Homo sapiens: one gene and its partners. The protein of the gene in region 3 purifies or fractionates together with the protein of the main gene of each other region. This does not show direct contact. Each region holds a gene or a part of one and is shown on either strand. Other genes may lie near its edges.

What was found.
Region 1: the proteins of GAB1 (region 3) and MET purify together in Homo sapiens (affinity purification with western blotting; 3 studies listed by BioGRID and IntAct, with this or other methods). This does not show direct contact.
Region 2: the proteins of GAB1 (region 3) and PABPC1 purify together in Homo sapiens (affinity purification with mass spectrometry; one large-scale study listed by BioGRID and IntAct). This does not show direct contact.
Region 4: the proteins of GAB1 (region 3) and DSG1 purify together in Homo sapiens (affinity purification with mass spectrometry; one large-scale study listed by BioGRID and IntAct). This does not show direct contact.

What each region holds. Positions count from the first base shown.
Region 1 is NC_000007.14:116,696,196-116,699,695, reverse strand, and holds part of MET (hepatocyte growth factor receptor isoform b preproprotein), read right to left. Parts: intron 626-3,500; coding exon of another isoform or gene 612-625; coding exon 1-611. UniProt on the Homo sapiens protein: Receptor tyrosine kinase that transduces signals from the extracellular matrix into the cytoplasm by binding to hepatocyte growth factor/HGF ligand. Regulates many physiological processes including proliferation, scattering, morphogenesis and survival.
Region 2 is NC_000008.11:100,708,589-100,712,088, forward strand, and holds part of PABPC1 (polyadenylate-binding protein 1), read right to left. Parts: intron 1,144-3,500; coding exon 871-1,143; intron 636-870; coding exon 545-635; intron 1-544. UniProt on the Homo sapiens protein: Binds the poly(A) tail of mRNA, including that of its own transcript, and regulates processes of mRNA metabolism such as pre-mRNA splicing and mRNA stability.
Region 3 is NC_000004.12:143,437,876-143,441,375, reverse strand, and holds part of GAB1 (GRB2-associated-binding protein 1), read right to left. Parts: intron 3,378-3,500; coding exon 2,776-3,377; intron 1,575-2,775; coding exon 1,489-1,574; intron 1,298-1,488; coding exon 994-1,297; intron 1-993. UniProt on the Homo sapiens protein: Adapter protein that plays a role in intracellular signaling cascades triggered by activated receptor-type kinases. Plays a role in FGFR1 signaling. Probably involved in signaling by the epidermal growth factor receptor (EGFR) and the insulin receptor (INSR).
Region 4 is NC_000018.10:31,316,818-31,320,959, reverse strand, and holds the start of DSG1 (desmoglein-1 preproprotein), read right to left. Parts: upstream 2,801-4,142; 5' UTR 2,660-2,800; coding exon 2,612-2,659; intron 1-2,611. UniProt on the Homo sapiens protein: Component of intercellular desmosome junctions. Involved in the interaction of plaque proteins and intermediate filaments mediating cell-cell adhesion.

The DNA of each region.
Region 1 (3,500 bases), on a different chromosome or scaffold from region 3:
GAAGAATTTATGGTATTGCCTACAAAGAAGTTGATGAACCGGTCCTTTACAGATGAAAGGACTTTGGCTCCCAGGGCGCTCACCACACAGTCAGGACACTGGCTGGGCTCTTCTATCTGTGGGGAGAATATGCAGTGAACCTCCGACTGTATGTCAGCAGTATGATTGTGGGGAAAGACATGTCGCTGGCAGGTCCCTCTGTTGACGCTGCCACAGCTAATGAGTTGATCATCATAGTAGGTGTCGACAACTAGAGCCATGTTGATGTTATCTTTCCAAACACCTCCTGATAAATTGGCTTTGCTGCTGCAGTCCTGACATGGGAAACAATCTGGGTGTTCCAGCACAGGCCCAGTCTTGTACTCAGCAACCTTCTGAAGGTCTTCCTCATTTAAAACATAAATGTAGTTAGTGGCACCAAGGAAAATGTGATGCTCATGTAGAATGACATTCTGGATGGGTGTTTCCGCGGTGAAGTTGGGAAGCTGATACTTCATATTCACATTCATCTCGGACTTTGCTAGTGCCTCTTTACACTCCCCATTGCTCCTCTGCACCAAGGTAAACAGGAGCACGAGGATGCCAGGTGCAAGCACAGCGGGGGCCTTCATTATGAGAGGTTTATCTGCCAAAACAGGTTCAAGGCGAGAGCAGTTCAGTTGTCAGAAATGAAGAGAAAACTGAAAGACCTATACCATTTAATCTATCAGAAATAAAGCTTCCCAACTGGACTTTTACATAGAAGGAAAACAAAAACTCTAGCAAGTTTCACATAAAGATGCATTGTGCGGTTGGACATGACTCCACATAGTTTAATTTTAGAACTCAAGCCATGAACGAATAATTTTAGAGAACCATTGAGATGCAAACAATGTTCTGTATTAAGGTTGATACAGTAACTAAGTTAGACTCATTCAGCAATGAAAGAAAAAACATAGCAACTTTCTTTCTTAACCCCTTGCTGGTTGTTTAACGTGGTTTAATAACTGTGGTTAATGACTAGGTTGATATTTAAACTTTCTCTGTTAGTCAAGTAAAGGAACTGTGGTTCACATTCATTTATTCTAGAAATCACAGCAGGCATTGTTTTCTTGAGCGCATGTAGAATTACTAGGCTAAATTTAGCTTCCTTTTGGAAGAAAACAATCATAAATTCTAGAAGCAATATGATCACATGCTGTTTATAGGATTTTGTGTGGAGAGGAATGGTATGGTTATAATTTGGCTATAGTTAACCTATTGTTTTAGACAGACAAATGTTTAATGTAAGATCACTGGGAACTGAAAAACAGGAGGCTGAAAATGTATAAAATACAACATAATCTTCAGAACTAAAGTCCTAGAACTACTTCTCAGGGAAAAACAACATATTGTTCATTACCAAGTCAAAAAGCTATTTAGTAAAAAGAACATTATTTTAACATTTCATTGTATGCATATAGACAGTATTTCTATGAGGAAACATGAATGGGCCTGTTATTCAGTATTTAAAACTTAAGGTGCACAAGTTATAAACATTGTGAGTTCTCCTTATAATAGTTATAGGCAGGGTAGTAGGTTGGAAAGGAGAGGCCTTAGAATGAATATAAACTAAATAGGTATGACTTTTTTTTAAATAGCATAATTCTGATAGGACAAAGGGAGCCTCTAAAAACATACTAGGCATCATGACTGCCAAAGACTAACCCTGGATCTACAAAAACCACATCAGAAATCACTGAGCAGCTGGTATGTGCAGGGCACTGTGCTTGCGCTATGAGAAATGGGACATAGCCCCTGCCCTTCAGTGAAGCTGCAATGTGGCTGAGTGATAACACATATATGCTGATTATTGTGGCACTGCAAATGGTATTACAATACCCTGCATAGCACAAACCAAAAGCTACAAGTATCAAGGGAAAAAAGCACAGCCTGTACTTAGGATTATTATGATCATGAGCAATAGAGACAAGTTCACCATGTTGTGAGGTCCAGGAGAGCAAGGACAAGGTCTGCTTGGCTCATCATTGTATCCCAAGTACCTAGTACAGAGCCTGAGATGCAGAAGGTGTTAAACAAATAGATACTGAATAAATGATGAATAAAAATTAAGCCGAAATTCGAAGTTACATAATGGTTAAGTGTAGTAGCCAAAATTTGCGTCCAAAATTTTTTGACTCCAAATCAAAAATAATTTTACCCTACTAATAGTCTAAGAATTGGGGACTTTAAGAGGTGATTAATAATCATTAAGGAATTTTGAGCTAGACCGTCATACAATGAAGGTTTTACTCTAGGAAGATTGATCTGGAGGCAGGGTGGCTTAGAACAGAGAGATCCTGGCAATGGAAAGACCAGTTGACAGGCTATTTTTATATCCCATAATGAGGTAACAAGAGCCAGAACAAATATGGTAGCACCAAGGATAGAAGGAATGAATAAGGGACATATTTGAATAAGTAGGATTTGATACCCTAATATATCAAACACAGTGCAAAAAAGAAAGCAAAGACAAACAAAGATGATTAGCAGTTATCTGGAAAAAGTAGAACAAGTTATAAAACTAGGGTAGACTGCACTGGGAAGTTAGGCTGAATATATGGGAATGGTAGATTGGTTTTAACCACGTTGAGTCGGGTGTGCTGCTGGGAAATGAGTGCATATTCTCCTATAAGGATGACTAGCAGGTTTTACATTATTCACCAGGAAGCAGGTGCCTGGAACAAGTGAAGAATGAAAACTCTGGGCAGACAGAGCATTAGTGCCAAAGAACAGAGGCGGAAATGAGAAGGATTCTGAGAAGCCTGCCTTGACTGGGAAAGCGGCATGATCAGTCTTGGGTGAAACAGTATCTGTCTTGAGTGAGACACATGAGTGTCAGGTATTTGCCACTGCTGCACTAGAAGGAATAAAAATTTAGAACTTGATTGGCAGAGTAACAGAGACTCCACTCCGACTAGAAATAAACTTTGCACATTATCTGCACAGAGGTGATGGTTAAAACCAGGAATGGGTGTGTTCATGAATGGACTAGATGAAAGAAGAGAAGGCAAATGGCCTAAATCTTAGGGGATACCCACAGTTGAGAAATCTATGCAGGAGTCAAGGAAGGTTAAGGTCAGTGAGGCATCAAGAGAGCAAATATTGCACTGTGTCACAAAAGCCAAGTGAGGGTCTCAAGGAGGACGTTGGTCCACATGGAACCCGTTTGTTGATCTTCAAGGCAGTAGTTTCTATAGTAGTATCAGATGTTAAATTGAGGGAATGGGTGATGAAGAAGTAGAATGTTTATCAAAGGGAAGACAAGCAAAAAGTAGTAACAGGGTGAAAAGGAGTTTAAATTGTGGGAAAGACATATGATTATTGGCAGGACCCCCCTTTCTTCTACTAACATTTATTGGATGTCTACAAAGACATGATGCCCTTCCCTGGGAAGCTCAAGTCACTTGATGGTTAACAGTTATCAGAATGCAGAGGAAGGGAGACCAACTCGACTGGAAATGATGCTAGAGCCGAGTCTC
Region 2 (3,500 bases), on a different chromosome or scaffold from region 3:
AAATTGGCTGGGTGCCATGGCTCACGCCTGTACTCTCAACACTTTAGGAGGCTGAGGTGGGCAGATGACCTGAGATCAGGAGCTCAAGACAACCCTGGCCAACGTGGTCAAACCCCATCTCTACTAATAATGCGTAAGTTAGCTGGGCGTGGTGGCGGGCACCTGTAATCCCAGCTACTCCAGAGGCTGAGGCAGGGAGAAATCGCTTGAACCTGGGAGGTGGAGGTTGCAGTGAGCCGAAACTGAGCCACTGCACTCGAGCCTGGGGCAACAGAGCGAGACTCTGTCTCGAAAATAAATAAATAAATAAATAAATAAAAAATGAAGAGCTGTACCTATTCCCAAAACTTTTATAAAGGGAAATCAAACCACTGTAGACATTACTATCTTAGCACTGCTTTTAAATGCTATAAAAATGAACATCCATAACCACAAATTATGTGAAATGCAATAGTTAACCTAACATTGACATAGAAGAGCTGATTTACCCAATGTGTTATTTTTAACTCAATCCCCAACCTTAATTAAAAGAAAAAAGACTTACGATGAGGTCTGGCACCCTGAGCAGTCCAGCGAGGACTTGGTCTTAGTTGAGCAATTTGGCTAGGAGGATAGTATGCAGCACGGTTCTGAGTCTGCAGGGAAAAAAAGCACATGAGTTTATCAGTTGAAGAAAAAAGCAAATAATGCAATAAATTATATGTACTTTTTCAAAACATTTACCAGGACTTCACACTCAAGCATTTTTTCCTACTCAATCATAATTCCCCTTTCTTAATGTTTCACATTTGCGGGGCGAGGGGCACAAAAAACACTAGAAATGACCAAATACGAAAACCTTCATGGTTCTGGTTGCCTTCTAAAACCTACCTGTGGGATAGCTGCCATGAAGTAACCTGAAGGAGGTGCTGGCTGGTAGGGGTTGATTACAGGGTTGGGAACAGCTCGTACACTTGCCATTCTCTGCATATACTGGTTAGTGAGGTGAGCCTGGCGCTCTTCTTTGCGCTGAGCTAAAGCTACATACAATGGCTTTGTGGCCACAATTCTACCGTTCATTTCTGTAACTGCTTTAGTGGCTTCTTCTGGGGAGGAGAAACATACAAAACCAAACCCTTTGCTGCGACCACCCTCCATCATAACCTATTAAAAAAAAGAAAAAAAAAGTTAACGTAATGGTAGAATGAGGAGCAAAAAAAGAGCGTTACAATTTAGACAATTATAAATCACTGAATCAAATAACTAAACCCTGTTAATGCTTAATCATCTTGTATTTACCCATTGAGTTCACAATTTTTCCTTAATACCCAATTATTAAGGGCAAACTACACATATGCATTACCCTAGCCAGGTCAGAGAACTGACAGAAGTGAAGGCTGCACAGAAACTTTTAAAGATTTTAGATACTGAATTTGATTGGATTTTCAATATTGAAATTTAATTATCTAAATAAATACATCCCAGGCCTACTAAATTGACTTTTGGGCACCACTGGAAGCATTTCCCAATTAAATTTTGACTATTCTAACAATTCAAGCTGACAAGATGCTTCACTATGCCTTTGAGAAAAAAGTAGTTGAATCTTACAATACCCACATCTTAAAATAAAAGTTTTTACATTCAAGAGCAGAGGATCCATAAATATTACGGTATAAAGAACACTCAAGAGGAAGGTTCTTCTAAAATTGATTGCAAAGACCTTTTAAATGAGCAATGAAGACTTGCAAAGAACCACTCGCTAGGCCAGCAATATATATAAGCATGCTATAAAACTACATTAACAGTATGCGAGTGGCATAGGAACAAACGGTAATAAAACAGAGGCCAGAAATATACCCAAGCAATTATGGGAATTCACTGTGCTAAAGTTAACATTTTAAAGTACTGGGGAAAAAGGACTTTGGGCTACTCAATACATGACACACTGGGACAAATGAAAAAATGTAGAACTCTTAATTCACATTACATTGAAAAATCTTAAATGCCAGGTAGATTCTGAATCTGAACATAGAATGTAGAAATAGAGAGAAAACCTTTCTAAGATGACACACACACAAAGTGAGGTCTATAAAGTGGAAAATTCGAAGAAAATATTTCCAATATAAAACAAATGTTTGGCCGGGCGCGGTGGCTCACGCCTGTAATCCTAGCACTTTGGGAGGCCAAGGCGGGTGGATCACCTGAAGTCAGGAGTTCGAGACCAGCCTGGCCAACGTGGCGAAACCCCGTCTTTACTAAAAATACAAAAATTAGCCGGGCATGGTGGCAGGTGCATATAATCCCAGCTACTCGGGAAGCTGAGACAGGAAAACTGCTTGAACCCAGGGGGTGGAAGTTGCAGTGAACTGAGATCACACCACTTCACTCCATCTCAAAAAAATAAAACAAATGTTCCCTTAATCAATAAAAAGACAGACAACCAGCCAGGCACGGTGGCTCACGCCTGTAATCCCAACACTTTAGGAGGTCACCTGAGGTCAGGAGTTGGAAGACCAGCTTGGCCAACATGGTGAAACCCCATCTCTACTAAAAATACCAAAAATTAGCTGGGCGTAGTGGCACATGCCTGTAATCCCAGCTACCCAGGAGGCTGAGGCAGGAGAATCGCTTGAACCCGGGAGGCGGAGGCTGCAGTGAGCTGAGATTGCACCACCGCACTCCAGCCCAGGCGAGAGTGAGACTCGTCTTTAAAAAAGACAAAAAAAAAACACCTCATAAGTTTAAGAATTTGTGTTGCACTGCATTAAAAGCATTCTTGGGCCGCATGTGGCCTGCAAGCAGCGGGTTGGACAAGCTTGGCTTAAGCCCAGGAAAGGCTGAGGCTGCAGTGAGCTGTGATTGTGGCATGCCCCTGCACTCCAACCTGGGCAACATAATGAGATCCTGTCTCAAGAAACAGAAAAACATGCATGCTTCATACATTCAAAATATGCTGATGCACAACACTCAATTTAAACAATATCCAGGGAACACACTGAAGACAAAAACATTCAGGAATAAATTCTATCGTACTCCAATACTCTTACATAAAAAGCATAATCTGAAACACAAGACAACCATGGCACTTCCATCTTACTTGTATTCAACCACCTTTCCCCTAACATTTCCTCACTCTCACAGAAGCTTCCTCGGACTTGCCAGGAAAAGCTGACTAGAAAGATCAGCCACAGCGTCATTCCAGTTCAGTTGAGTTGTAATTTTTTTCTATGCACTCTTCCCCAACCCCAGCAAAATTATGTATGCACAAAACCTTGCATATAGGGGGACTCTTGGCCCACGGATGCTAGACAAAAACATCTAGAAGAGAACTTCTTAAATCAAGATTTCAGAATTTGTACTAGAATACTACTGCTTTGTTTCTTAATCTCTGATTTCAAATAAAAGAAAATATGATCTCTATTCTTACTGCTAGGGGGCAGGGGAGGGAACTGGGGCTTGACTACCCAGAATGAATTGTAGAAATGAATAAACAGATCAGAACTATAGTAACAATTATAAGT
Region 3 (3,500 bases):
GCACATGAGACTTTTCAAATGTGCTGAAACACCCTAATGTAAGCCAGATATTGTATCATTCATCACATTTACATTTATGCTAATTTACTTGGTTGTCAAGATTAAGCCACACTAACAGCATGGTGCAACAAATCAAATTGTCTGTGTTTTAACAACTTAAACCCCAATTTAAAAAACCTGGGTAGGCATTACCCAATTTGGCTGAACAGTTTCTTTTACAGACTTCTTAACAAACTATGTTACCTTAGAACTTAATGTTACTTATGAAGGCCAGCATGGAAAAAAAAATGACAGACTAGAAGCATGTATTACCCCAGCAAAGGCAAAGTAATTTTTAAGAAGTTGTTATATGAACAGAATGGAAAGATTATACAGTCTCACTGTTCTTAAATAATTATGTCAAATACATTAATAATCTTAAGTCTGATTTGATATTATATACTCTGGAGAAGAGGTTACTAAATAGCAGCTGAAGGCCATTATCTAGCTTGCAGAAGTGTTTGGGTTGGCCTGCAATGTTTTCTTAATAATTAAATTAGTTGATAGAACTTTAAAAATTGAGAGATAATACATATAAAATCTGAAATCTCTGGCTTTTCCTGATATACCAGAAGATTTGCCTGCATGGGTGCATCATTTCACAAGTCAACAAAGGATTGTAGCAGTGTAGGTTAGTTACTCCCATTAGATGGGGCTACGGCAGTCCAGTTTCTTCTAATTCTCCCCAGTTGTCCGCTCACCCCGTGAGTATTTCAGCTTGTAACCTCTGCTCTAGAGATAGGAGACTTATAAATATCACCTCACATCAACATGTGATATCATAATTGTTAATTTATAAATGGCAGTACTGCTTTGCTTAAATAACTTGATGGCTATGGAACTATGAAATATTTCAGAATTTCTAGTCCAAATTCTATTTTGGATTTAATGGCAGTTAAAGATAGATCTAACTTGGCACTCCCCAAGCCTTTTACTTTGCCATGCTCTCCTTACCTTTTCTGTCTGGCTTGAGGTTCCTATCCACGGGGGGTGGTTCACAGTCTGCAACAGGAACTGGCCTTCTGGGAGGGGTTTTTGGGCTGGACCTGAAGCCCATATGAGCAGGAGGAGGAACTTGCATTCCAAATGAGGAAAAATCAAATGTTCCTGGAGTCATTGGCACATAATTTGCTTCCTGAATTGGTTCTGTAAAACTGCTGGAATGTTGTCGTGGTGGTGAATTGGGATTCATTGGGACGTAATTTTCATCCAGTTCTTCACTTGAAACACTTCCCACTGTCAACACATTTTTGACTTTCTAAAACACATATATATTTCTTTTAATAAACAAAAACTCTTGTCACACATGAAAACACAATTGTAAGTCACACTCATTCATATGGATCTCAGCGTACTTTTATTTCATGATATCACTTAGTCTCATGGCACTAATTATGAAGATTTAGACAATGAAATACACTTGATGATGCCAAGGTCAATTATACTTACAAAGTGGTTATGGAAGCCTTCAAGTGAACTAGATCTATCACTTGGAAATGCTCGTGGAATATCATAGCAGTCTTGAGAACTAGCATCTAAAATAAAGAACAAACTATCAACATTTATTCCCATCTTTGCCAGCTCTCAGGGTCATTGGGATGACCTATTATCTTTCTCTCATTATACATATGCATACACACATGCACACACACAGAATTTTAAAAAGGATGCTCATAGAACTGTGTCTTGAATTGGCATATTAAACCACTAGAAAATGCAGACACTCACTCATATGCTAACCAATACCAATATCTAATTTTGAGTGTGAGTGAATGTCTAAGTCTGGGATAAGATAGGTTATCTAAAGATGAAGAGAAACACCTCTATTTTCTCATCGTTTGCACCACCTTGGGCATAACTTACATCTCACTAACTGATAACCAGGTTATACAGTCACTTCAAGAAAGGAGTTAGATACTGTTATTGAATGGTGAAATAAGTACTGATTTAAGTAATAATCACAGATACATTAAAATCTTGGAGATAGCTGAGGAAAACTCTACCACAAAATACAGAAATTTTAGCACATACTGTTTAGGATATGTGCATTAAAAACTTTAGCTTTCTATTTGTAGGACTTTGAGAATCTCAGAGAATCACCCAGACTCATTTTTTTCTTCTCCTCTCAAGGTCTGTAACTTTTGGATACAGACTCTAGGAGACAGTATAGGAAAGTATACTCACTAGCAATGAGTGAAGTGGGTAGTGATAAGGGGAAAGAAGATTCAGCTCTTTAAACACAAGTAAAAATCAAACAGCATAATGGCTTGACTGGAACAGAATATCACCTGTTAGACACAACATAAAAACTGCTTATATAGGAAGGAAGGAAATAGAGCCCAACAGATGTGACTTAGAAGCGGCCATAATGGCACACAAATACAGGAAAGGGTATGACTCGGAGAGGCTTTGTGGCTGGTCCATTTCCTGCCCTTCTGTCCCAACAGAGGGCCTATCCACCCAGGATTATAGAAAGTGGGAGAGAGAAGGGCACACTTCCTGAGGCAGGAAGGCATTACTAAGGCCATACTTCTTCAGGGGTGAGAAACTCCAACTCTTTTTCCCTTCCAGCAGAGCATGAATGCAATATACCCTTCCAGGTAGCTGTAGAGCTGGAAAAAAATGGACTGTATTTTGTAGCATAGTATATTTAACTACGCTTAAAAGAACAAATATTCAGAAAAATCGATTTTCTATCATTAACCTCTAATAGAGAAGAAGTCAACTAGAGCTGACCTTTTCGCAATTTGTTTAAATCCACAGTGGAAATGGTATTACTACGTGAAGGCGACATCCCTGCTGTAGGGATACAGTAACTACTGTCAGTGTCTGAGGCGGTGCGTGGGATACTACACGTTTCCACAGGAGATCGGTCATGAGCTGGATGTGGTTTCGGTGGCCGAGGTGGAGGAATATCTGGAATAGTGTCTAGCTTTGATGTCTGTCCCAAGGTTCCTTCTGGAAATGTTCGTGGAATCTGATAAGTATTACCAGGTGTTGGAGGAATGTCATAACTAATAGATACATGCCTCATTTGAGTCTCTACACTCGATGTCCCAGATGGGGTATTAAAAACATAGAGTTCTCCATCTGCTTCAGTACTTGATGGAGACACCTTTGGTAAAACATCATGGGAATAACTCCTGGGCAGGTTATAAAGGCTGGAGTCAACTGAAGCAGATGGGGCACGTGAAGGTGGAGAGTCGTATATCATTTGCTGCTGAAAAAAGCCATTCATTCCATGTTTGCTCTGGGAGGAAGCAGGATTTTTATGAGAAGGGACGTTATCATTGCAGTCTGTTTCAGAAGAGGTGGATTTTGCAGAATCAGCATGCGTTCTAAATAAAAATTGTTAATGACAGAATAAACAAGGTGGAGACTAAGAATACATTTTTTATAAACATGTTTATCGCTAAGCAATCAAAAGATAGGGCTTTTCTCATTAGATTTTTTGTGTGATC
Region 4 (4,142 bases), on a different chromosome or scaffold from region 3:
AGAAAAAGACATCTTCAGATTTGTATTGACTTAAATGGACTAATTGGACCTGGCAAAGTTGCAAGTAATTTTCAGAAATCATTAAAACCATAGAGATCCCTCTGGCTCTGTTTTGCTTTCCCACAGTGACCATGCTGTACTTTTTACCATTGTCATATACATGCACATAGATTTCTTTTATTTGGTGCATAAGAAGCATTGTTCTCAGGCCTAGAGAAAATACATTCTAACTCCTTTCTCTACTCCATACACTGATTACATGGAAACAAAAAGAAGAATGAAAAATAGATGCAGAATTAACAAAATGTGTTTGACTTGCAGTGTTATAGCAGGTGTAATCTCTTGCCTGTCCAGGAGACTTGTCAGAACAATGGAATAGCCATAGAGCGATCTTGATTGCTGTAAGAGCAGCTCCTCCAGCTTTGTTCTCCCTGATTCAACCCACTCATTTGAACAAGGTTCACAACCTTCAGATGCATTGAGATGAATACACAGTATGCTTGCAAACAAATAGTTACCCAGTTCTCAGGTAGATTTGCTTAAAAGACACTACCAATTTAAATATCTTAAAGGCCTTAACAATTGTACAAATACGCTTCCTAATGCAGGTTCCCGCTTATTGACTTTGAGTAGAGACGAATATAAAGACTTTACATAAATTTTTTTTCATTTTTTGGTAAAAGCATGCATTTATAATGAGACTAGGAGAAAGATAACTGAAAGAATTTGCTATAGTGGTGGTTGTTTTATGAAGAAAAAAAGTATTTTAAAGAAAAATACAGATTAGGAAACTCCAAAGCACAATTACCAAAATTATCCCATGTGGTAAAATCTGTACTTAAAATAAATTTTGATCTTCCAAACCTTAGAAAGTGAAATGTTTTCCAAAAAAACCTATGATGTCAACGTGAAAATGAAACATTGTAATTCATGATAGTGTAAGTTCTTTGAGAAAAAATTTTCATAAGGCATGTGGGAGACTTGTGATTAATTTCAATATAAAATAAGGTAACCTCCTCTTCCCCCATTCCCAAAAAAACCCCCATAAGCCAACAAAAAAAAATCTAGGCACAGCTAGAGAAAGTTCAATAAAGATATATGATTTTGATGATGATACATTTTATTGAAGAATGACTAAATAGGAAGTGGCTGTTTAAAGAAATTTGATATGCTATAATTAATTTGAAATAAATAAATCAACAAATAAGGCACATCTTAGAGATTCTATGAAAGTTAGTGTACACCTATCTGAACAAGCTGATCAACTAAAACTATAATAGCTCTTAATGGATCAAATTTATTTGAAATTTTAAGTAAAAGTGCTTGATTACTGACAATATGAAACTCTCATATTTCAAATGACATACTGTATAATGATCAGTGATCCCTACCAAATCCTAAGTAATGAAATCAACTGATCCTAAATATCCACTGAAAAGAGCATGGGATAGGACTAATGTTTGAAGGAAAGCTTGGAACCAAAGCCACCAGCTTACTGATGCTCATTTATAACTAAATCCACTGATTATGTCCCGCCTTAGTTAATAAAACTGAATTCAAACTAACCAGCATACTTTGAATCAAAGATCTAACTTATTATACCAACCAACCCAACATTCCAGTTCAAAAATTAAGCAAGTAGAAACAAATGTGAACCACAGCACTATACATCCTGCCAAGCTGGAGGGCAATTTACTTGGCACCTGCCTTTTTGAATTACATTAACCTTACTATGAGAGAGATTACAATTTTCAAATTTTCACTGAAAGTGAAATTGACATAATACATTAGTGGTGCACTTAGTATTATCTCTACAGCAAGAAAACTAATTACATGTAAGGGGGCAATGATAAAGTATTTCATTACATTCGTCAGACGATCAAGTGCACAACTTTTATATCGCAGTCATCACTGACATTCCAGTAGTAAGATCGAGTGTAATAATAATTATACTTACTCTTTAATTATAGCCACTTCTTCACTTAATATGTCATTTATAAACCTCCTGTACTGCCGTTTTTTGAAATTAAAAATGTTTTAAATAAAATCATAGTTAAATAGTGCGGGGCTTTTTATAGTAGTGATACAGATTCTAACCAAATATGCAACTGATGACTTTATTTGGATAGCGAGACCAGCCACAAACTGCTACGATTTTAAATTATGTGGTGCTATTTTTATGTTTTAAAAATTAGAGTAATTCCACCACCAAACACACAAAAAAAATAAAAAAAAAAACAGGTTAAAAATCCAGACACACTTGTGATATTTAGTTTAAAAGCCCTCTTGCAGAAGAGATTTTGAACGACAAAGTGCTACTAACTAGCGATAGGAATTTCCTAAATTCAGTCTTTTCCCAGCATGACTTAGCAATGACTTCAGTGTCAGAGATGTAATACAATGAGTTGACACTGAGGCATTAACATGATCTTGAGTCTTCAATTAAAGAGAGAAATGCTATTGAAAAATCTAGTTCATAAAATCATCTTGTCATTAATATACATTTTCAATGGGTTTAGGTTAGAAATAATGCCCACTAACATTTTCTAAAAAGTTTTCACTTGTTTACAATGGGCACGATTATGAAGGACTTTTACCAGAATCCACTCACCAGAAAAATGAACAGCATTGCAACTACTCTGAAGAAACTCCAGTCCATCTCTGCTGGATTCTCTTACATCCAAGACCAAGGGAGTTTTGTTTGTTCTTCTCTGTTCTTTTTCTTTCTCCCACTCAGCTGGTGTCTGATTAAAATAATTTCTCAGTAGATGTTCTTACATGCAGGCTTTGAGGTGTTTCTGCCTTCCTCTGGGAGAAGGACTGAAGGTACGTATAACCAGTCTGGATCCCCACCCTAAAAACTTGGGCTGGTCTCACTGAAATGCTTGACAAGATCATCATTGCTCCCAGGTAAAAACTTGGGGACACACCCTTCCTCCAGCTGAAAAGCGACTCTTGATGGGGCAAGGAAGATTCACTCCTTTACTGAATGTTTTCAGTGGCAGGCTCTTAAAGTGAACAGAAATACCGAGGGTTATACAGGTGATGGGGGCTTCTCACCCCATGCTTTCTTTACAGGTGGTTTAGTTTCTCCCCATATTAAACAGGCAGGTATAACTTGAATGCTCATCTTATTCATTCCATTATCTGTTTGTAGCCAAACCCTCAGGTCATAGTAGAAAATGACAAACTTTCCATTTTAGTAGATGTTGGGAAAGTTTCAGTTATTTTCGGTTGTTAAGAGACAGAAAATATGCTAATGCAAGACTGAGATTTTTTAAAGTTATTAATTCAAACAAGTAAAACCATGATACTTACAATTATTAGATCCTCTGCATAAGTCACAATTCCCATTAACTGACCAGCCTTCAGTCTAAGGAATCCTCCATTTTCCCTCTAAAGAAATTATTTTCTCTCCCTAATTATTTTTCTTTCTTTATGATTCTTTTATTAAATGCAACAAAATAAAAATTTAAATATTACTAAACTTAAGGGTGAATAGTGAGAACCACCAATTAAAATCCTGATAATAACTTTAAAAATGAGATTCGGTGCCTGAAATACTAATGAAAACACAGAAAGCTGCTCAGCAGGTGAGGTGGGTTAAAAGTCAATGACAATTCCTAAGCACAGAGCCAAGAATCTGTACAGCGAGCCAATTAGAACATAGGGAATACACTGAAGAAATGGCTGCCTACACAGGTAGACGGGAAACTGAATGCAGCCCTGAGGTTTGTGAAAATAAATAGCAACCTTCACAGGGCAGCATTTGGACATATTTTTGGACTCTCTTCTCTTCCCCTGGCAACGTCTAGTATAAATATTGTGAGTGGCAGGAAGCTCATAGACACTGGACACCCTCAGAGTTTGAAACGGCTACTTAGAACAAGAGACCTACCTGATAAGATGTTGATTATGGTCAAAAAGATACTCAAAATGTCTCCAAAAGGAAGAAAATCTCTGAGGGTCAGAGGGTCTATAGAAGGCTGTCATTTCACTACAGATTTGTGGCAAAGAAGATGTGTGGTTTGAATTTCCATATTATCCATCATACAGTGTGGAGGGGAGGAGATAGGCTGCCCATGTTTATTTGCAGTGAATAAGAATGTTTATGATTGTAAATAGCAGATGTAAATAAATAA